Homo sapiens: one gene and its partners. The protein of the gene in region 1 purifies or fractionates together with the protein of each later gene. This does not show direct contact. Each region holds a gene or a part of one and is shown on either strand. Other genes may lie near its edges.

Region 1 (3,500 bases):
CTGCTTGATACAACTGCTTTCCAGCCTAGCTGTGCGTGAACAGATTCCAGACTCTGAGCTTGTCAGGAACTGCCTATCTGGACCTTTGGCAGCATTCAGAAACCCTCATGTTATCTTTTTTATTTTTATTTTTTTGAGATAGAGTTTCATTCTTGTCACCCAGGCTGGGGTGCAATGGCGCGATCTTGGCTCACTGCAACCTCCACCTCCTGGGTTCAAGCGATTCTCCTGCCTCAGCCTCCCCAGTAGCTGGGATTACAGGCATGTGCCACCACGCCCAGCTAATTTTTGTATTATTAGTAGAGACAGGGTTTCACCATGTTGGCCAGGCTGGTCTTGAACTCCTGACCTCAGGTGATCCACCAGTCTCAGCTTTTCAAAGTGCTGGGATTACAGGCATGAGTCACTGTGCCCAGCCTATCTTTTACTTTATTTATTTATTTTGTTTGAGATGGAGTTTCACTCTTCTTGCCCAGGCTGGAGGGCAATGACGCAATCTTGGCTCACCACAACCTCCACCTCCCAGGTTCAAGCGATTCTCCTGCCTCAGCCTCCCGAGTAGCTGGGACTACAGGCGCCCGCCACCACGCTCGGCTAATTTTTGTATTTTTAGTACAGACGGGGTTTCACTGTATTGGCCAGGCTGGTCTCGAACTCCTGACCTTGTGATCCACCCACCTCGGCCTCCCAAAGTGCTGGGATTACAGGCGTGAGCCACTGCGCCCGGCTATCCTTTTTTTCTTTTAAGACGGAGTCTTGCTCCGTCACCCAGGCTGGAGTACAGTGGCACGATCTTGGCTCACTGCAACCTCCACTTCCCAGGTTCAAGTGATTCTCTTGCCTCAGACTCCAGAGTAGCTGGGATTACAGGCGCCCACCACCACACCTGGCTAATTTTTTGTATTTTTAGTAGAGACGGGGTTTCACCATGTTGGGTAGGCTTGTCTCAAACTCCTGACCTCAAGCAATCCACCCACCTCGGCCCAATGTGCTGGGATTACAGGCGCGAGCCGCCGCGCCCGGCGGAAACCTTCATGTTATATTCAAGTGTAAAAGAGAGATGTGTGGGTTGAGTGGGGAGGAGGGTATTATCAGGAATCAGGTTTTATTATTTCCAATTCAATGCCTAGGTTCCTTCCCTCTGTTGAATTCTTTCTTTCTCAAAGGGCTCTACAGTTGCTGCCTGGCTGCAGGGAAGTAGAAGACACAGGAAAAAAAGGAAACAATATCTACATGAGTGTTTCCTAGCTGCATGGGCCTCTCCTCTGGCTCCCACATATGCTGGTGTGGGAGGCAAAGGAAAGGTCCCTTCAGGGTTTTCTCCTCAATCTTCTCATTCCCTAGTTGAGTTCATGTCTTCGGTTATCGCCTTAGGCCTTGATTCTTCTCACCCCACTTCTGTATATTCAACGCCCTCTGGACCTCTCCACTAGTATGTATAGGCATCTGAGATTCGCCATGTCCAAAACTGTACTCATCAAATCCAGCAGTAGAGTACAGAGGAAACAGTTTAGGCTGTGGGGCTACGCAGACCTGGGTTTGAATCTCAGTTCTGATATTTTCAAGAGATACTATATCTAAAGCACCTTGCACAGGGCCTAACCCATGCTCTTCTTTCTGTATAGTCATCCCGTGGTATCCACAGGAGATTGGTTCCAGGACCCCTTCAGATACCAAAATCCTGGGATGCTCCAGTCCCTTATATAAAATGGCATAGTATTTGCATAAACCTAAGTACATCTTCCTGTATATTTTAATCAACTCTAAATACTTATAATTCCTAATACAATATAAATGCTAAATGCTAGGTAAATAGGTGTTATAATTTTTTTTTTTTTTAGACACAGTTTCACTCTTGTTGCCCAGGCTGGAATGCAACGGCGCAATGTCGGCTCACCGCAACCTCCGCCTCCTGGGTTCAAGTGATTCTCCTGCCTCAGACTCCCGAGTAGCTGGGATTACAGGCATGCGCCACCACGCCTGGCTAATTTTGTATTTTTAGTAGAGACAGGGTTTCTCCATGTTGGTCAGGCTGGTCTCGAACTCCCGACCTCAGGTGATCCACCCACCTTGGCCTCCCAAAATGCTGGGATTACAGGCGTGAGCTACCACGCCCGGCCTATACTGTATTTTTTTATTTGAATTTTTAAAGTTGGTTTTTGTTCCCAAGTATTTTTGATTCTAGGTTGAATCCGCAGATGCACAACTTGTGGATAGAGTGTTGACTTTGTACTCTATCTCACCAAAAGACCAAAGCCCTGGATAACAAGTGTTAAAGCAAACCAGACAACATGTTGATAGTATAATCCATTTGGGCCTTAAAAAAAAACATCTGGTTGCGTGTGGTGGCTCATGCCTGTTAATCCCAGCACTTTGGGAGGCTGAGGCAAGCAGATTGCTTGAGTCCAGGAGTTCGAGACCAGCCTGGGGGACATGGCAAAACTTAATCTCTACAAAAAATATGAAAATTAGCCAGGCATAGTGATGTGTCTCTATGGTCCTAGCTACTCAGGGGGCTGAGGCAGGAGGATCCCTTGAGCCTGGGGGGCAGAGGTTGCAATGAGCTGAAATCACACCACTGCACTCCAGCTTGGGCCACAGACTGAAACCCTGTCTAAAAAATAAATAAATAAAAGCCATCTAAAGAAAGTATTTGTAGTTCCTTGCAGGCATTTATGAGTATTATCAGATTATGGTTTTGATAAGTAGTTGGTGAGGAGAGTATTTTCTCCTGTACTTTTCTTTTTGAGACAGGGTCTCACTCTGTTGCCCAGGCTGGAGTGCAGTGGCCCATTCATGGCTCATTGCAGCTTCGAACTCCTGGACTGGAGCAATCCCGAGTAGCTGGGACTACAGGCACATGTCACCACACCCAGCTTATTTATTTACTTATTTATTGAGACAGAGTCTCGCTCTAACGTCCAGGCTGGAGGGCAGTGGTGTGATCTCAGCTCACTGCAAACTCCACCTCCCAAGCTCAAGCTATCCTTTCCATTCAGCCTCCCAGGTAGCTGGGACTAGAAGCATGGGCCACGATGTCCAGCTCATTTTTTGTGTTTTTCGTAGAGACAGGGTTTCTCCTTGTTGCCCAGGCTGGTCTGAAACTCCTGGGCTCAAGTGGTCCTTCTGCCTCAGCCTCCCAAAGTGCTGGGATTATAAGTGTGAGCCACTATGCCTGGCCTTATTTTTCTTTTGTAGAGATAGGGTCTCACTGTGTTGCCCCCTCAAACTTCTAGCCTCAAGTGACCCTCCCACCTTGGCCTCCTAAAGTGCTGGGATTACAGGTGTGAGCCACCACACCTGGCTTTCTCCTATACTTCTTTTTTTTTTTGAGACGGAGTCTCGCTCTGTCACCCAGGCTGGAGGGCAGTGGCGTGATCTCGGCTCACTGCAAGCTCCGCCTCCCGGGTTCATGCCATTCTCCTGCCTCAGCCTCCCGAGTAGCTGGGACTACAGGTGCCCGCTACCATGCCCAGCTAATTTTTTTGTATTTTTTAGTA
Region 2 (4,114 bases), on another chromosome or scaffold:
GACATTACGAAGAGAGGAAATAGCAAGAACAAGGACCCAAAGATGGGGAGATGCTTATCATGTTTAAGGAGCAGCAAGCAGGCCAGTGTGACTAGAGCAGAATGACTAAGGAGAGTGGTAGATGAGGCTGAGAAATAAGAGGGAAGGGCTGTCTTGCCCAGGAGCATTTGGGTAAGGCTTTCATGGACAGGTATTACAGCAACAGGTGGAAATGGAGGGGTGGAAGGTGATTCCAAGTAATTAGAACAAAGGAAAACAAAAGACAAGGAGCTAAGAACGCCTTAAGGATGTTTAGAATCAGAGGCTGGCCTAGTGTGCAATGAATATACATGTAAGTGTGAGGAAGCAACATTGTGAGGGTAGAGGAAGCAACATTGTGAGGGTAGGGGACCATGTGTTAAGGGGTGAAGGTAGAGTATGATGAATATTCGGTTTTTGATTCTGTTTGGGAACTGCAGAAGAGAGACTAGGGCAGGAAGGCACCAGGGTAAAAGGCAGGCATTAGCTGCCCCTTAAATATAATCTTTGCTTTTTCTCAGGCATGAATAAAATCCTGCTCCAGAGTTGCTTTAGTTACTACATCTATGAAGAAAAAGGGTGGAGGTCTTAAGATCTTTATGGGAAAAACACTCCTAAAACTTTATTGTAGTAGGGAGAAGAGAATATATACAAGTAGAATTTATACTATTGTAAATTAACATGAACTAAATTGAACTCGTCTAACACACAGTGAATCATAAGACAAAGATGACTAAAAAATGAGACTGAGAAAGGAAATAGGAATTTCAATTTTCTGAAGAGCATTCCACAAAATGGCTAATCCCTGGATAAACAACTAAGTTAACTACCTCTAATTTTACATAAAGAAGAAGAGGATTGTTACAAACATACACTTTGAGTTCAAAGGTATTCACAAGGTAAGAGCCAGAACCTTGCTCACAATTCATCACCTCAGTACCTCTACCAGTGCCTGGTACAGAAGACTCAAATGCTTGTTTAAGCAATAAAAAGCCTATCCATTACAGTTTATCTCAGTAGAATCAAACAGTGCTAGGGCTGTTTGATAATACCACTACCTTGAAATGCTAATATTAATTAGGAGGAAATTAAAAGTAAGTAGAAAGAGGGGAACCACCTGTGCAAAACAACAACCTAACCCCAGAGGAATCTACTGGTTAATTACCCAAATGACACAAAACCACTTCAGCGATATGCAGAAGTGTTGTTTGGCACAATGCGATATATATCATGATCAAATCCAATAAACAACGCCGTTGCAAAAAGCAAAGGAATTTGCCCTTAATATTCATAGGCTGCACTAATGCTCCCTTTTTGGAACACACAACAAAAAGCATAAGGCAATCTCAATCTCTTTCCTCTGAACCATTCAAGAACTCAGCGGATTTGGGGAATTGGGTTTGCTTCTCTACAATGTTTTTTAAAATCCTAAATTAGGTGTAACTTACTCTCATCGTTTGTCTTAAGTAATACAAAACAGCACAATACAAAGACAGCGGCTCATATCCACTCTTGGTTATAGGATGTTATAAATCCCTGAAAGGAACCGCTAAAGTAAAACAAAACCCAGCAAGTTAATATCACATTTTTATCGCCAACCAAAAACAAACGATCAAACTTCCACCAGGAAAAGCATCTTTTTATATGGGATAATGCTTGCATAAATGTCACCAATATTAGTTTGCTTACAGTTAAAGCTCAGAGACAGGGTTTCATATGGCTTTTTTAGTCAAACTCATCCATTGAAACAAATTTTTTTAAAAAAATGCAAATGTCTGAATGTCAATATTCTTTCCTGTCTATCTTCCATGAAGCATTTTTCCATGCTAACACTAGAGCATCCTTCGGTGTAATTCCACAAGCAGATTCAAATTCCCTTCAATACCATAAATAAGCCCTATTAAAAAGCCTTTAAACCACAAAAAAAGTGCAACAGCGGTTTGCAACTGTGTGGTTAGTTCTGCCTGTTGGTAGCGATTAGAACAAGCCATGAGTCGAGGGTGCTCAGAACCGAGTAAAAGGGACCCCGGCCGCTTTCTCCCCAAGAGGCAACAATAAAAGCATCCTCCTCTCGCCCCAATACTTCGCAGGAAAGTGGCCCCATTCCCGGGACCCAGTCGACCGCAGGAAAAAAGCACGGCCAGCCTCACTTACCTTATAGACGTCCCCGTAGGTGCCGCTGCCGACCCTCTGGACGAGTTCGTAGTCCTGCTGCGGGTTCCGCCTCAGGATGTCCGCGGCAGGCCGCAGCGGGGCCTCCATCTTCACTTAGGGCCCGGCCCCCGCCAGCTCACCCCGCGGCTCCCGGATTCCCGCTAACAAGCACGAACGGCGCCGCTTCCCAACATGGAGCCTCCGCCCGCAGCTCCGTCTGCACGAGGGACGAGCAAAGGCTGGTTGGCGTCGCAGGCTACGACCCCCAGCGGCCCGCGCCCTCGCGGCCCGGCCCCTTCCCTTCCGTCCCGCCAGGGGCCGTGGAAGAGAAAGGGGCCTGGAAGGGCCCCCGGCGCCCCGTATCCCCGTTCGGTCTGCGGCCCTTCCCCCTCCCCGGCCGCCCGCGAACTGCCCGACGAGGCCTCCCCGCCAGCCGGGGCCCAGGGCCGGCTCCGTACCTAATGGGGGCGGCCCCGTCTTTGTTGAGCGCGGAGCCCGGGACCTACTTCCTAGACCGCACCCGCGTCCTCCTCCCGCGCGCCGGCCGGCAGCTCCGGGTTTGCCGTCGCCGCCGCCGCCACTCAGCCGCTGCACGGCGCGTCCTCTCGGGGGCGGCGGAGGCGCGTACAGTCGCCGCCGCCGCCGCCGCCGCACCACGTTCCCCACCCGGGGCTGCGTCACCGGGAGACACGTTCCCAGCCAGCATGGGTCGGCGCCCAGCGGCCCGCCCGAGCACTCCGGCCGCAGAACCAGAGTGCCGCCCTGAGGCCTGCTGAGAACACAACACCCTCCCGACCGCGCCACCGCGCCCCCCTAGCCGGGCGCGTCCTTGCAGGGCCTGGGCTGTCTCCCTCCCACTCTCAGAAATAAGGCACACGCCTGGGCATTCGTGGGCCAACGGGCCTTGGCTAAACCGTCCCCACATTTGTCAGGTAGGCCTGTAGGGTGACGGGTAGAGGAAGAAGGGCGATGGGAACGTAGCCCTCCAAGTTAAACACGGAAAAGGTACGTTAAGGGCACCGGGCCAGAAGTAACCTGGCAGCGGGGCGCCGGGGAAGGAGGTGGGGGAGTGCCAGGTTAACTAAGTCCCGGCACACCCTACTGCACCTTCCTGTTTTGCAAACCGATCCCGGTGGTACCAGTTTGAGGCTGCACTGCACACCTGCACAACCTGCCTTCTACTTAGTTCTTCTGAGACATTTCTGAAAGTCTGAATTCCTAGGACTGCTCAATGACCTTTGTCCCTGTTGGGCACACGCAGTGTCTCATCGCTGGTATTGCACCTTTAATGAGACCAGGAGTTCCGCAAAAGTAAAACAAAGGGGTCACAGACTGGTTCTGGTTCTACCACTTCCTCAGTATGTGCTCTGGGACAAAACAGCATATTTGGCAACATCTCGGTGTCCTTATCTGCAGCTTGAAGAGGGTAAGATTTTGCATCTGACACCCAGGAAAGTGTTTATAAAGCGTTTTACAGGATAGTAAGGGGGGTTATCGAATATAAGAGGTCTTAAAATACTTAACAATGCACAGCATATATGGAACAGGAGTTCGGGGAAGTAATTTGGCTGATATTTCACAAGCTGTTTTGCAGTTTCAGTTCCAGTCTTGCTCTGAAGGTAGAAATTAAGTTGCCAGTGTTACATTATACTGGCTAAGTTATTTCTAGAGCCTCATAGAGAATTTGAACAGAAAAGCCAGATAACACTCAGCCACTGCATTTAGTGACTGAAACATCATAAAAGAGCAAGTTGGAGATGTTGGCTTGTGGCTTTGAACATCCAATTTTTAATTCTGCTCTTGAGAATTAAAATACTCCTTATTGTTGATAATTGTATAATGTATAATAAGGAGTAATTGACAATACTCCTTATTGTTGATAATTGTATAATGTAGAAATTAAATTCGCACCTTAACAGGACAGGGCATATATGTATTTTCT
Region 3 (3,500 bases), on another chromosome or scaffold:
GGACGCACTTATTAAATAATGGCTGGATAAATGAATGTATGGTTGCTATTCTTTGGTCAGCTCGGTATAGTTTATTCCACCTCCCACCTTGTTCTCTTCTGCCTTGCTCCCCTCACCAGAGGGGCTGGAACAATTTTAATTTCCTATATCCCTCTTAGGTAAAGTGACTGTGGTCTAGAGATAAGCACTTGTCTCAGGCTGAGCCAATCAAAATATCTGTCTGGATCTGAATCTTGACCAGGGATACAGTTAACGAAGACAGCATGGTGAACTGAAGCACTGGATGACAGCACTGCAGGGAGAAGATTGATGAGTTTCTACTTCTGAGATCTGAGGTTCTCTGTTTTTCCAAAGACTTGGTTGTTTTAACTTTTCCTTCAGTTTGTGAGTTACCCTAGAATCATTCCAGTTAATTTACTTTTGATCCCATTAGTTATTTCCTTTTTCTACCAAAGCAAAGAATCCAAGCATGCAACCAAATCAGAAGGTTAACATTTTCTCCACTGTCTTCTTTTATTTTTACTTTTTAAAAACACTATTAGGCCGGGTGCAGTGGCTCACACCTGTAATCCTAGCACTTTGGGAGGCCAAGGCAGGTGGATCACCAGAGGTCAGGAGTTCGAGACCAGCCTGGCCAATGTGGCAAAACCCCATCTCCACTAAAGATACAAAAATTAGCCGGGCATGGCGGCAAGTGCCTGTAGTCACAGCTACTCAGGAGGCTGAGGCAGGAGGATCGCTTGAACCTGGGAGGTGGAGGTTGCAGTAAGCCAAGATCAAGCCACTGTACTCCAGCCTGGGCAACAGAGCGAGACTCTGTCTCAACAACAACAAAAAACCCAAGACACTACTGCGTTAAGATATTTTAAAAGTTTATATATTTAGATTTTATTGTAAAACTAGATTTTTAAAATTATTTATTTATTCATTTTGAGACGGAGTTTCACTCTTGTTGCCCAGGCTGGAGTGCAATGGCACGATATCAGCTCACCACAACCTCGGCCTCCCAGGTTCAAGTGATTCTCCTGCCTCAGCCTCCCGAGTAGCTGGGATTACAGGCATGCACCACCACGCCCAGCTAATTTTGTATTTTTTTTTAGTAGAGACGGGGTTTCTCCATGTTGGTCAGGCTGGTGTCGAACTCCCAACCTCAGGTGATCTGCGCACCTCAGCCTCCCAAAGTGCTGGGATTATAGGTGTGAGCCACCGGATCCCAGCCCTAGATTTTATTTTTAAAAATCCATGTTTGTATATCTTATTGCTGGGGTTAAGTCAGGAATTGCATGATACACCTTTTACCCTTTCTCTGAACACGTTTGCCATCAGAGGAGGAATTAGAACATTTGAGTATGTATTTCCTCCTTTTTCTTTCCCTCTTCCCTCAGAGGAAAGGGACCTCTGCTCTAATTCCCTGGAATGAGCAATAGCAGATTAACATTTTTGAGCTCTTCTCATTCTACTGTTTCCAATTCAAAGGGCAGGAGTGAAAAACCCCATTCTGGCTTCAAGCCCAAACTGCAATCTCTATTTCAACTTTACCTTTAATAAAGCTGATATTTTGATCCCATTTGGCACAGTTCTTAGAGTTTTTATTAACCAAACCCTGGAACAAAAGAAGGGTAGTTGTAAGACCCAGATGCCAATCCTCATCTAAAAATCCAATGATGATAAACCTAGATCAACAAATGAGATTCTTTCATGAATACATATCCAATAATAGGGCATCCCAAATAAGGAAAAGTTCAAAGAAAATGCAATAATCCTTCTCTCTCTCTGCACAATTATGTCCTTTAGATGGTACATATAAAATGTCAGGCATTGGATCATCCATGACTACAGTGAAGATGTTAATGTAAGAGGCACAGGAACTCTCTTAAAATATATTTGGGAGCGGGGAGGAGCGGGGAAACAACTACAGGAAGCTTAAGACAAACTGGTTAAAAAACCAAGTCAAATTCTTTTTAGTGGTGTCAGTGATAAACATATATAATTATAACTTATGCAACATCTATTTCAAAAGGAGAACTGAGGTGGTTTATACTGAAGAAACATAACCCCCTCCCAAAAAAAATTAGCTGAAAAGAAGTACGAAATGATTTAAAGTTATAAGGAAAGAGGAAAGTTCTACCAGACATCTTGGATAAGAATTACAGGCTTAAACATTATTTTATGCTATGAATGCTTTCTGGAAGGCAGGCAAAGGAATAAAATCAAGTGTTCTTATCAGTGTTATTCCCCATAGTAAAATCTATTTCCTACCTTTGGGTCTACAAGAGATTTGTCACATGCATACTTATGTAAGGTCAATAAATTAACAAGGGGGAAAGAAAGTCTACAAATGAAGATATTTTCAAGCAGCCACTTTTAATAATGAACCTCAAACAACTAAGAGCCTTTTTTTGCATTATAGTAAATGAGTGAAAACATTTTTTGATATAAGCAGTTGAAGTATGTGGTACTCCAGTAATTCTACCAGATTTTGGTGTGGAGCTTAGAAAATCTAAAGATTAGATGGTCTATGCACCCCTCAGACACTCTCAAATATCTACTGTCTAGCCTGAATATTGGAAGGTACAAATGGTTAATTATCTCAAAATTGAGTCATACGTACAAAGCAGGAGTATGCAAATGTTCTCTAGGATTACTGAAGTAATATTAGTAAATTTTATTTAAAACAGATAACCTTCTAATTTGAAAAGCAATAGTCTAACTTGGTTTCTTGCTCCAATAAACAACCATTCTATCAAGAAAGTAAATGTTATTGACTCTGCTAGGTAGAAGTAAAAACTATCTTAAAGAGAAGATTTCAGTCTTCCTGGATGTCCCTAGAGGGAATTCGGTAAAAATCCCAAGGAATTCAGTAATTCTAAGGGACAATTATTTCCGCATTTACAGTTGAGAGAGAAAGAGAAGACTGAAGTAGCACTTATGGAGTACCAACTATATACCAAGCACTGTGTAAGGCATTTTATACATGTTACAACATGATTAATTCTCACAAATTTTGGAATGTTTAATATTAATCCTCTTTTACAAATGATGTACCTATACTGAACTTCAATAAACTTTCCCAGGTCATACAGATACTAAGTGGCTAAAACAGGATACAATTTTACGTCTGACTTTAAAACCAAATTTCCCCCAATGATAATCAACTATCTCAACCATACTTGGCCACTTCAAGTATAAATTAACCTCAGGACAGCTCTATTGAAGATCAAATTCATGTAATTTTGATCAGTGTTCTATTAAGTTAATAATAAGTTATATACAGATAATTTACAGCATTAGTATTTTTAGTTGAATATTAAAGAATCTGGCAAAAAATTTTGATTTTAGTTTAGTTGATGTTGAACTATTCTTATAGCAATTAGCTAGCTGTCTGCGATAGTTTACACTGATAATAGAAAACCACGTTGTCATTACAAAGGAAAAAACTTATTTTTAACTGTAGATTATATATACACACACATATATAAATTACAAGTGGAATTTGGTAA
Region 4 (3,500 bases), on another chromosome or scaffold:
AGCACTTTGGAAGGCCGAGGTGGGCGGATCACGAGGTCAGGAGATCGAGACCATCCTGGCTAACACGGTGAAACCCTGTCTCTACTAAAAATACAAAAAATTAGCCAGGCGTGGTGGCACATGCCTGTAGTCTCAGCTACTCAGGAGGCTGAGGCTGGAGAATCGCTTGAACCTGGGAGGCAGAGGTTGCAGTGAGCTGAGATTGCGCCACTGAACTCCAGCCTGGTGACAGAGTGAGACTCTGTCTCAAAAAAAAAAAAAAAAAAAAAAAACTATAAAAAAGTACTATGCTAAATCCTTTGAAGAAGCTAAAAGAAATTGCCACATGGTACACAAGCCTTCTAGAATTTACAGCTCTACTTAAAATCAAAGATTGTTTAAGCTGTAAAGGCCCCCAAAAAACATTCAATTCAAATCCCCTCATGCTAATGTTATCTCAAAGTCAGGTTTGTTCTAAGACAGAACTAGAGTCCAGAATTTCTATGGCAAACTCCTTTTTAGCAAAGATGTTAATTACATAATAAAAAGAACACTTTGAGTGTTTATCCTCAAATTCCTCATCATAATAGGGTATAACAGGAGGGGGTTAGACTTTGGAAACAGACTTGCATTTGAATCCTGGTTATGATTTACACTGAGCTTATCTAGCCTCTCTCGTTTTCAGTTTTCTCATCTATAAACAAGGGCTACTACTTACCTTGTGGTGTTATTGTAAAAACTGAAACATCAACTAACTATCTATCATACTGACAAATTATTTTATTCTTCTAATACTAATTTCCCTTCCTTCTCACTTCAAACAGTGGATGCTCACTTGGCAAATTTGTTGAAGGATTAGTTTTAACAGATCATTCAAATACAAGGCTTTTAGGATCCCTTCTGGTCTTGAATAAATAAAATCATAAAAATTAAAATCAGTTTCCATAACAGTCTGAGCAATTAAAAGCAAAACTCTCGTGTGATACAAAGAATTCTAACCTATTGGATATCTATTCTACAATCTGTGAAGGTTACATAAGTGAATAAAACACAATCCTTTTCCACAAGAGTATGAAATGAAATTTAACCAATATCAGAAGAGTGAGCACAGAAATTTGGCACAATTTAGCCTAAATGTTGTGACAATATCCTTTATTTGTAGATAATTTAAGATGTCCTTAAAAATAATTCTAGTTTCAGAAAAAGATTATGACTAAAAAACAAAAGCTAATTGCAAAAATTGCTTACCTTTTACAGGAAAGGTAAAGGGTTCCTTAGTCAAATCAGGGCAATCAACTACAGAGACCTGGACATCAGCAAAGTTATCTTTTAACCCCTTCTGCATAACTAATAAAGACAAGGAATAAGATTATTTAACATTAGGTAAAAACTTGGCTACCACGTATCAAAAGTGGTATGTGGCTCTCAACACACTCCCAATCTCAACTTGTATAATAAAAAAGAAGGGGGAAATGGTCTTATTAATGAATATAATTAGACATTAGACATAATCACAAGATACAACGTAGACTAAGATATATAAATACTTCCTCTACAGTGATTTTCAACTGTTGAAGATAAACAGCCTGCACTTGTGTGAGGGTGAGGATTACCTTCTTTTTTGAGAGAAGATTCCAAAAACCAACTGAAATGCAAACATTTAAACTTTTTAAAAAGTAAGCAATCACATGTAACAACTTCAGTGAAGGTAACAGACAATATGTTGAACAAAGCAGCCAGACACAAAACACTACATACAATATTACTTCACCTTATGCATCTCAGAAACAGGCAATGGATCAAGGCTGACTGGGAAGGTGTGCAAAGGAGCCTTCTGGGATGTTGGAAATATTTTACATTTTGATCTGGATAGTAGTTACATAGGTGTAACTATTGTTAACATTCATCAAGCTGTACACTCAAGATTAGCATACTTTACTGTAGATAGTTATACCTCAGTAACAATGTAAAAAAGCATAGGTGTCTCAAAGTTATTAATGTAAGACCAATGTATTTCCCTCTCTCTTTTTTTCTTTTATATGTAGAGACCAGGTCTTGCTATATTGCCCAGGCTGGTCTCGAACTCCTGGACTCATGTGATCTTCCTGCCTTGGGTCCCCCAAAGTGCTGGGATTACAATGAGCCATCACACCTAGCCTCAACAGTTTTTTTTTTTTTTTTTTTTTTTGAGACAGAGTCTCACTCTGATAGCCTTACCTACCCTGTCGCCCAGACTGGAGTGCAGTGGTATGCAGCATGATCTTGGCTCACTCAGCCTTGATCTCCAGGCTCAAGTAATCCTCCCACCTCAAACTCCCCAGTAGCTGGGACTACAGGTGGATGCCACCATGATTGGCTAATTTTTGTATTTTCTGTAAAAATGGGGTTTTGGCTTGTTGCCCAGGTGGCTCTCAAACTCCTGGGCTTAAGAGATCTGCTCACCTTGGCCTCCCAAAATGCTGGAATTATAGGCATGAGCCACTGCATCAGCCTATGTACTTTTAAGGATCAAAAGTTCTTACAAAATGTCTTTTTTTTTTTTTTTTTTTGAGATGGAGTCTCACCCTGTCACCCAGGCTGGAGTACAATGGCGCAATCTCGGCTTACTGCAACCTCTGCTTCCCAGGTTCACGCCATTCTCCTGCCTCAGCCTCCCGAGTAGCTGGGGTTACAGGCGCCCGCCACCACACCCAGCTATTTTTTCTATTTTTAGTAGAGACAGGGTTTCACCATGTTGGCCAGGCTGGTCTTGAACTCCTGACCTCGTGATCTGCCTGCCTCAGCCTCCCAAAGTGCCGGGATTACAGGCATGAGCCACCGCACCTTGCCAATTTCTTTCTTTCTTTTTTTTTTTTTTGAGACTGAGTCTCGTGTTGTTGCCCAGGTCGAAGTACAGTGGCGCGATCTTGGCTCAACGTAACTTCTGCCTCCCAGGTTCAAGTGATTCTTGTAGCTCAGACTCCTGAATAGCGGGAATTACTGGCACACACCACCACACTCAGCTAATTTTTGTATTTTTAGTAGAGATGGGGTTTTGCCATGTTGGCCAGGCTGGTCTTGAACTCCTGACCTCAAGTGATCTGTCCACCTTGGCCTCCTAAAGTATTGAGATTACAGGCATGAGCCACTGTGCCAGGCCATAAAATTTCTACTTTTTCTGAATATATCCTGCACATATAGAAGGAAAATAGAAACAAACACAAAAGTGAAAACAGATTCTAGAAAAGCAATCAAAGAAAAAATCTGGCCAAGCATGGTGGCTCATGCCTGTAATCCCAACACTTTGGGTGGCCGAGGCAGGAGCATCGAGTGAGGCCAGGAGTTCAAGAGCATCCTGGGCAACAGAGCAAGATCCTATGTCTACAAAAAGAAAAAAGAAAAAGAAAAAATTCCTAACTGCCCTGTCATATTAGGGAAGACAGACTGATGAAAAAGAAATACAGGCCAAACAATACAGATTGTTTATTAGCTACCATTCAATTAGGGAAAAAAAAAAAGATTATAAGAGGAAAGTTACAACA

The links. Proteins that work in one complex are often made in the same cells at the same time.
Region 2: the proteins of AKR1A1 (region 1) and MAP4K5 purify together in Homo sapiens (affinity purification with mass spectrometry; one large-scale study listed by BioGRID and IntAct). This does not show direct contact.
Region 3: the proteins of AKR1A1 (region 1) and GNPDA2 fractionate together in Homo sapiens (co-fractionation; one large-scale study listed by BioGRID). This does not show direct contact.
Region 4: the proteins of AKR1A1 (region 1) and C11orf54 fractionate together in Homo sapiens (co-fractionation; one large-scale study listed by BioGRID). This does not show direct contact.

What each region holds. Positions count from the first base shown.
Region 1 is NC_000001.11:45,553,826-45,557,325, reverse strand, and holds part of AKR1A1 (aldo-keto reductase family 1 member A1), read right to left. Parts: intron 1-3,500. UniProt on the Homo sapiens protein: Catalyzes the NADPH-dependent reduction of a wide variety of carbonyl-containing compounds to their corresponding alcohols.
Region 2 is NC_000014.9:50,529,770-50,533,883, forward strand, and holds the start of MAP4K5 (mitogen-activated protein kinase kinase kinase kinase 5), read right to left. Parts: upstream 2,801-4,114; 5' UTR 2,679-2,800; exon of another isoform or gene 2,631-2,678; intron 2,390-2,630; 5' UTR 2,281-2,389; coding exon 2,173-2,280; intron 1-2,172. UniProt on the Homo sapiens protein: May play a role in the response to environmental stress. Appears to act upstream of the JUN N-terminal pathway.
Region 3 is NC_000004.12:44,713,057-44,716,556, forward strand, and holds part of GNPDA2 (glucosamine-6-phosphate deaminase 2), read right to left. Parts: intron 1,604-3,500; exon of another isoform or gene 1,540-1,603; intron 1-1,539. UniProt on the Homo sapiens protein: Catalyzes the reversible conversion of alpha-D-glucosamine 6-phosphate (GlcN-6P) into beta-D-fructose 6-phosphate (Fru-6P) and ammonium ion, a regulatory reaction step in de novo uridine diphosphate-N-acetyl-alpha-D-glucosamine (UDP-GlcNAc) biosynthesis via hexosamine pathway.
Region 4 is NC_000011.10:93,748,172-93,751,671, reverse strand, and holds part of C11orf54 (ester hydrolase C11orf54), read right to left. Parts: intron 1,327-3,500; coding exon 1,228-1,326; intron 1-1,227. UniProt on the Homo sapiens protein: Exhibits ester hydrolase activity on the substrate p-nitrophenyl acetate, in vitro. Regulates DNA damage and repair by regulating HIF1A degradation via chaperone-mediated autophagy (CMA).